Homo sapiens: one gene and its partner. The protein of the gene in region 2 purifies or fractionates together with the protein of the main gene of each other region. This does not show direct contact. Each region holds a gene or a part of one and is shown on either strand. Other genes may lie near its edges.

Region 1 (3,730 bases), on a different chromosome or scaffold from region 2:
TTGAATTTTACTAGCAGTTAGACAACAGACTGGACATGCTATTAACAAATGTAGTTGCACTGTTGGCATTTTAAAAAATCATTATTACATTTGCTTATAGGACAATAGGTGCATCCTTCAGTGATTCATTGATGTCCTTTTGAGACTGACCATATGAAACTGACATGGGGATTTTAGTATTCAAGTTGGTAACTCTGATTATTGAATCCTTTCAATACTTAATTTCCTCTTAACAGATTAAGATAAAGAATCTGAAATAATAGTTACAGTAGAAGATAGCACCACCCCCAGATCAATACTATCCTCCTTAATGCTAAAAGTAGTCACTTTAGGTAAGTCATTAGTAAATGCATGAACCTGAAGATAACAGTTTTGAAACAATCTCAAATTTTTTTGTCTCTGTTATAGATTAGTTAAAGATGCTAATAAACTCTTTGAGTCATATCTGATTCTCTCAGATATATCAAGTGTTTTTGCTACTTTAATTATCTCTTTACTATTGCCATTACCTTTATCTACTCAATCTAGACCTTTTCATGTAAGGACTGTATTTTGATCATTTCACCATATTTTCCCTCCCTTCACATCATTCTTTTTAATTCGACATTTGGATGTTAGACTTACTGTTCTCTAGCTATTTTGGTTTCAGTAATGTTACTCTCTTGATACAAATTTGGCCTTTATTTTTCATTAAGGAGAGCACTTATTACCATTTATGTATTTATTTATTCATTATGAGAAACAACTTTTGATATTCTCAGTTTTCAATTGCAGAAAATGATTCTAGGCACCAAAAGCAGTTAAAAGTCTGCAAATTAATATGTAGTACACAAAAGGCCAAAGTCAAGGGAGACAGTCTGTATGAAGGTTTGGGTGGGTGGGTAGGTGGGTGGGCGTAGAGGAAGATGTGGAATGAAAGCAAATTCTCAGCTATTAAAAGCTGTCCATGTAGGGTAGAGATGAGCCTTTTTGTCTAAGAGGGTGAAGAAGGAATAAATGTTTTGTTTTTCTGTTTCAACATATTTTGTCCCCATCCCTCCCCTGTCATGTCTTTGAACTAAGGCCATGGTGCTTCCTTATAAAAATTATACAGTATGTTTATTGGAAGGAGTTTTACAGTGAATTAGGTGAATTCAGAATTTTAAAATGATGTGAACACAATTAGATGAATTTTTATGAAAAACACTTTGAATCTAATCTTTGATCTTTCCTGTTCAAGACATAAGCTTTCCTTTGAATGGTAGTACTTTAACTGTAATACATTTTACTTAAACATTTCAGTAAAATTCTATGGAAAGTTAGACAAAATAAAGAGCTCAGGATCCTCTTTCAGTCTACTGTTAAGTTTATATTGTGGAAGTTGGGGAAAGTTTTAGACAGTTTGTTTTCCGTTAAAACACACACTAGAGGGGGCAAATTTCTTTTTTTTTTTTTTTGCTTTTTGTTATGTTAATGAGCAAATAATTTACTTTTAAGATCACATACCTTGACTTTTTTCTTTCCTTTTTTGTCTTCTTTCCATTCTCCTCTTTCCCTTTTCTTTTCTTCTTTACTTAGATTGCTCCTTTCTTTCAGTTTGTATTGGCAAAATAAACATTGGTCTTTAGAAAATGAAATTATAGCCTGATATTCTTATTGAAATTTATTTTTCATTATATTTATATTTCTCATTTAACATGAAGTTTTATGCTAACCTCTCCTCCTTCTCAAGGCTCCATCCCTATCTTGGTCCTTTCTTTGAACTTGGCTTTTATATCCCCTAGGCTTCAACAGTTTTTTCCTTGTATACCAATCTTTCATAACGCTTTGTACCTCAAAAAGGCCTTTAAAAACCAGAAGAAAAGTTACTACCCTATTTCTCCCGATTAGTTTGTATCCAAGTTTATTCAGGTTCCCTTAGGTTATAGGTAATTGCTCGCCTCAATGTGTCCTCATTAGCCTTCTTTGAATTACTTTATTTTATTTTATTTATTTATTTATTTATTTATTTATTTATTTATTTATTTATTTTGAGACGGAGTCTCGCTCTTTCGCCCAGGCCGGAGTACAGTGGCGCCATCTCGGCTCACTGCAAGCTCCGCCCCCCGGGTTCACGCCATTCTCCTGCCTCAGCCTCCCGAGTAGCTGGGACTACAGGCGCCCGCCACCGCTCCCGGCTAATTTTTTGTATTTTTAGTAGAGACAGGGTTTCACCTTGTTAGCCAGGATGATCTCGATCTCCTGACCTCGTGATCCGCCCGCCTCAGCCTCCCAAAGTGCTGGGATTACAGTCATGAGCCACCGTGCCCGGCAATTACTTTAAAGACATTTTCAGACAAAAGTAATACATGTATACAACGAATTTTTTTAAATAAAAAATTTGGCTAGCCAACTGACTTTTTATTATTTTGTTCATCAGACACTATAAAACATGGTTCAACTAGTTTTTTTTTTTTAACAACTAGTAAAGTTACTATGTGTCAGGCAGTCCATTGTCTTTATGTTAGTTAACTAGTTCCACTAATGTGTACCTATTAAGTGAAGTATGAACTACTCTATGAGCAATCAGTAAATGTTGAACTAAATTAATTTAATTTTAAGTAAAATATTCCTAATTACATTTCTCTGTATAGCATCATCATTAGCCATCTTAATCTACCTCAAAAATGACCATAAAATACAGTGCTTGAATATCATGAGATATTTCATCGCTTAACTGTCTAGGTCCTTTACAGTTAAAGCAAACTCACAAGTAAATATACAAACTGACTCTATTTGAGACAAAACCATCATTTCAATATGAACCCTTTACATTTATTTAAGTAGTAATGGATTTTAGGTGGCTACTACCTTTGCATTACAACAATTTAAAAGTACAACATTGTGTTGTTAATGCATGGTGCTGAAATTACATAATGAATTGGCATGAGAAAGTGTTCATCAATTTTAAAATGAATAATATGGTATCATTTTGATTGGTATTAAGGCAATTAAATAATGCTCGGCTTTGACATTTTACTATTTTATTTGGGTATTGTACCTCTCAAATTGGTAATTTTCTCTTCCCTTAAGAGTCTACCTTTTTGAGCAAAATAATGTATTAAGTAATAGGCTGCCTATTTTTTATTGTTGTTTATATGATTCACTACGTCCTTTTGGCCCACTTTGAAAAACAAGCAAAAAAGTTTTTAGGATTCAGTTATTCATTCTTTTTATCTTAATAGGTCATCTAGTATAGCCAGGAAAATATTTGATTCTTTAATTTGCTACAAAACTTATTTATTGTTTGAACAAAATTTTCAATCTGTAGCATACAATTTCTTTACTTAGTGGATGAGAACATGGAATTATAATACTTGTAACAACTTCTCAGCCTGCTAATTTTGTCTACCTGGTGTTTCACAAGGGCTAACATGATGGTGGCAGTGGTGGTATTTGTGTGTTTGTGTATAATTACTTTCTAAGATAGAGTTAGACTTTTATATATTTGCTTTTTTCATTGGTGAAATCAATTATTATGCAATCAGTTGATTCCACATGAGAACAGTTGGTATTAAATACAATTTAATAGGGAAAACAATGACCAAGTATTTATTAATGAAATCAAATTAGATTAATATTAAAGTATTGCTGTATTTTTCTGTTTGGATTAAGATAGTCCAGATTCCATTGTTCATTATTGAAATCAAATGGTAAAGCTAAATCTTGTGCTCAAAATTAAAACATCTCCATGTTGATCAAAATGTCCTAA
Region 2 (3,500 bases):
TAGCACACATATTTTAACAATAAAATCACAATAAAGATCTTTACAGTTCAAGCTAGTAAGCTTTGCTATACTTCTAAAACTGTTAATATTGCCAGTGCTTTTTATCCTCTAGACTATTTCTAGCCCTAAAACAAGTGCCCGAGGGAAAAGTGGCTAGTTTACAGCTTTCTTATTCATCAGTGAACAAAAACCTAGCATACTCTGTCTACAAAGAATAAAATGCCCTTGGAAAAAGGAGGCAGAAGTCTGTAAATCAAGAAGACAGGAAAGGTATTTAGCCTGTGGCTCAGGCCAGTAGAGTGTGAAAGATCATAGTGAATCTACACTGAATCTAAATACCTCTGTCCATCTGATTATGCCATATTCTACTGCCTAACAGAAAAGCAAAAATAGGAAGAATGAAGTAGAATTTGACATAATTCATTTGCCAGATGAGGAGCTAGTCATAGAGAGGTTCAATAATTTGCCCCACATCACAAAATCTAGTTAGCATAGAACTGGCCTAAAATATTATTTACTATTTCCTAAACTCATCAGCAGTCTTTCCACTTTGCATACTTTGTTTTCCTTGTTTGTTTTGTTTGTTTTCTCCAAGACAGAGTCGCATTCTGTCACCCAGGCTGGAATGCAGTGGCACAACCTCAGCTCACTACAACCTCCGCCTCCCGGTTCAAGCAATTCTCCTGCCTCAGCCTCCTAGCCACGCCCGGCTAATTTTTTTTTTTTTTTTTTTTTTTTTTTGTATTTTTAGTAGAGACTAGGTTTCACCATGTTGGTCAGGCTGGTCTCAAACTCCTAACCTTAAATGATCTGCCCGCCTTGGCCTCCCAAAATGCTGGGATTACAGGCATGAGCCACCGTGTCCAGCCTCATACTTTCGTTTTAAAATCAGTATTTTGGCCCGGCATGGTGGCTCATGCCTGTAATCCCAGCACTTTGGGAGGCCGAGGCAGGCAGATCTCCTGAGGTCAGGAGTTCGAGATCAGCCTGGCCAACATGGTGAAACCCCATCTCTACTAAAAATACAAAATTAGCCGGGCATGGTGGCACGCACCTGTAATCCTAGCTACTCGGGAGGCTGAGGCAGGAGAATTTATTAAAGCCAGGAGGCAGAGATTGCAGTGAGCTGAGATTGTGCCACTGCATGAGCAAAACTCTGTCTCAAAACAAGCAAACAAAAAAAATCAGCATATCGGCCGGGTGCAGTGGCTCACGCCTGTAATCCCAGCACTTTGGGAGGCCAAGGCGGGTGGATCACCTGATGTCAGGAGTTCAAGACCAGCCTGGTCAACATGGTGAAACCCTGTCTCTACTAAAAATACAAAAATTAGCTGGGCTTGGTGGTGGGTGCCTGTAATCTCAGCTACTCAGGAGGCTGAGGCAGGGAGAACTGACTGAACCTGGGAAGCGGAGGTTGCAGTGAGCCGAGATTGCGCCATTGCACTACAGCCTGGATGACAGGGCGAGACTCCATCTCAAAAAAAAAAAAAAAGAAAGAAAGAAAATGTGATATACATACACAATGACACAAATGGAATACTATTCACCCTTAAAAAAGAAGGAAATTCTGTCACTTGTGACAACATGGACAGAACTGGAGAACATTGTGCTAAATGAAGTAAACTAGGCACAGAAAGAGAAATGCTGCATATTGTTGCTTAACTGTTGAATCTAAAACAATAGAACTCAGCAGCAGAGAACAGAATGGTGGTAAAAGGCTGGCAGATAGGCAAAATGAGGAGATGAGGATCAAGGGATACAAAGTCGTAGTAGGAATAAGTGAGGGTTTTTTTGACATCTATTGCACAAGATGGTGAATATAGTTAATAATAGTGTATTCCAGATGGGCGCGGTGGCTCACACCTATAATCCCAGCACTTTGGGAGGCCAAGGCAGGCGGATCATGAGGTCAGGAGTTCAAGACCAGCCTGACCATCGTGGTGAAACCCCGTCTCTACTAAAAGTACAAAAATTAGCTGGGCGTGCTGGCGGGCGCCTGTAATCCCAGCTACTCGGGAGGCTGAGGCAGGAGAATCGCTTGAACTTGGGAGATGGAGGTTACAGTGAGCCGAGATTGTACCACTGCACTCCAGCCTGGGCAACAGAGCAAGACTCCGTCTCAAAAAAAAAAAAAAAAAAAATCAAAACAAAACAGTATATTCTCGGTCTTAAAATGGCTATGAGTTGCCAGGGGTGGTGACTTATGCCTGTAATCCCAGCACTTTGGGAGGACAAAGCGGGTGGATCACCTGAAGTCAGGAGTTTGAGACCAGTCTGACCAATATGGTGAAACGTCATCTCTACTAAAAATACAAAAATTAGCCGGGCATGGTGGCGCAAACCTGGAATCCCAGCTACTTGGGAGGCTGAGGCCAGAGAACTGCTTGAACTCGGGAGGTGGAGGTTGCAGTGAGCCGAGATTGTGCCACTGCACTCCAGCCTGGGTGACAGAGCTAGACTGTCTCAAAAGCAAAACAGAAAAAAATCGCTGTGAGTAAATTTCAAGTGGTCTCACCACAAAAAATAAGTATAAGGTGATAGATATGTTAACTAGCTTGATTTAATTGCTCCACTTTATATTCATGAATCATAACATCATTTTGTACCCCATAAATATATACAACTATAAATTACCAATTTACAATAAAATGTTTTAAAATAAATCAGGGAAAAAAGAACCAAACACTCTGGGTGTTGGCCTTTTGCATACAACGCTGGCCTTGAAACTGAAGAGTTCCATTCTCATTCAAGGAGCCATTAGATAACTATTCAGTAGGAACTATACTGAAAAAAAGTTACATAGCTTTCCTGTTCCTTTGGGATGAATAAAAATCAAAACAACTAAAACTTCCAATCTTCAGCCAGGCGCAGTGGCTCACGCCTGTAATCCCAACACTTTGGGAGGCCAATGCAGCCGGATCGCCTGAGGTCAGGAGTTTGCGACCAGCCTGGCCAGCATGGTGAAACTCCGTCTCTACTAAAAATACAAAAATTAGCTGGGCATGGTGGTAGGTGCCTGTAATCTCAGCTACTTGGGAAGCTGAGGCAGGAGAATCGCTTGAACCCGGGAGGCGGAGGTTGCAGTGAGCCGAGATAGTGCCATTGCACTCCAGCCTGGGCAACAGTGCCAGACTCCGTCTAAAAAAAAAAATACAAACAAAAAACCTTCCAGTCTTCAAAGAGCACTGATAAGGATTGGGCTCAAATCAGCATCTGCACAGGATCCATCAAAGACCTTAGCTAATGCAGTTGGTGCTCTGTATCCACAGGTTTCAAATCCTGAGACTATTGTACAGTATTTTCGATTCATGCTTGGTTGAATCAGACAATGTCATGGGTTTACTGTATAACAGAGGCAGAAACTGTGGTCACTGCATTTCCCATGGCATTTAAAGGAAGGCAAGAAAAGCTGACAGAAGCTGTGATTTGTCCCTCAAATTAGAAGGGTTTTATGTAAAACTTCAGGAGAGAACTCCTCACAGTTAAGACTCATTTTTCTT

What was found. Proteins that work in one complex are often made in the same cells at the same time.
Region 1: the proteins of ARMC1 (region 2) and MAP2 purify together in Homo sapiens (affinity purification with mass spectrometry; 3 studies listed by BioGRID and IntAct, with this or other methods). This does not show direct contact.

The regions. Positions count from the first base shown.
Region 1 is NC_000002.12:209,426,961-209,430,690, forward strand, and holds part of MAP2 (microtubule-associated protein 2), read left to right. Parts: intron 1-3,730. UniProt on the Homo sapiens protein: The exact function of MAP2 is unknown but MAPs may stabilize the microtubules against depolymerization. They also seem to have a stiffening effect on microtubules.
Region 2 is NC_000008.11:65,627,678-65,631,177, forward strand, and holds part of ARMC1 (armadillo repeat-containing protein 1), read right to left. Parts: intron 1-3,500.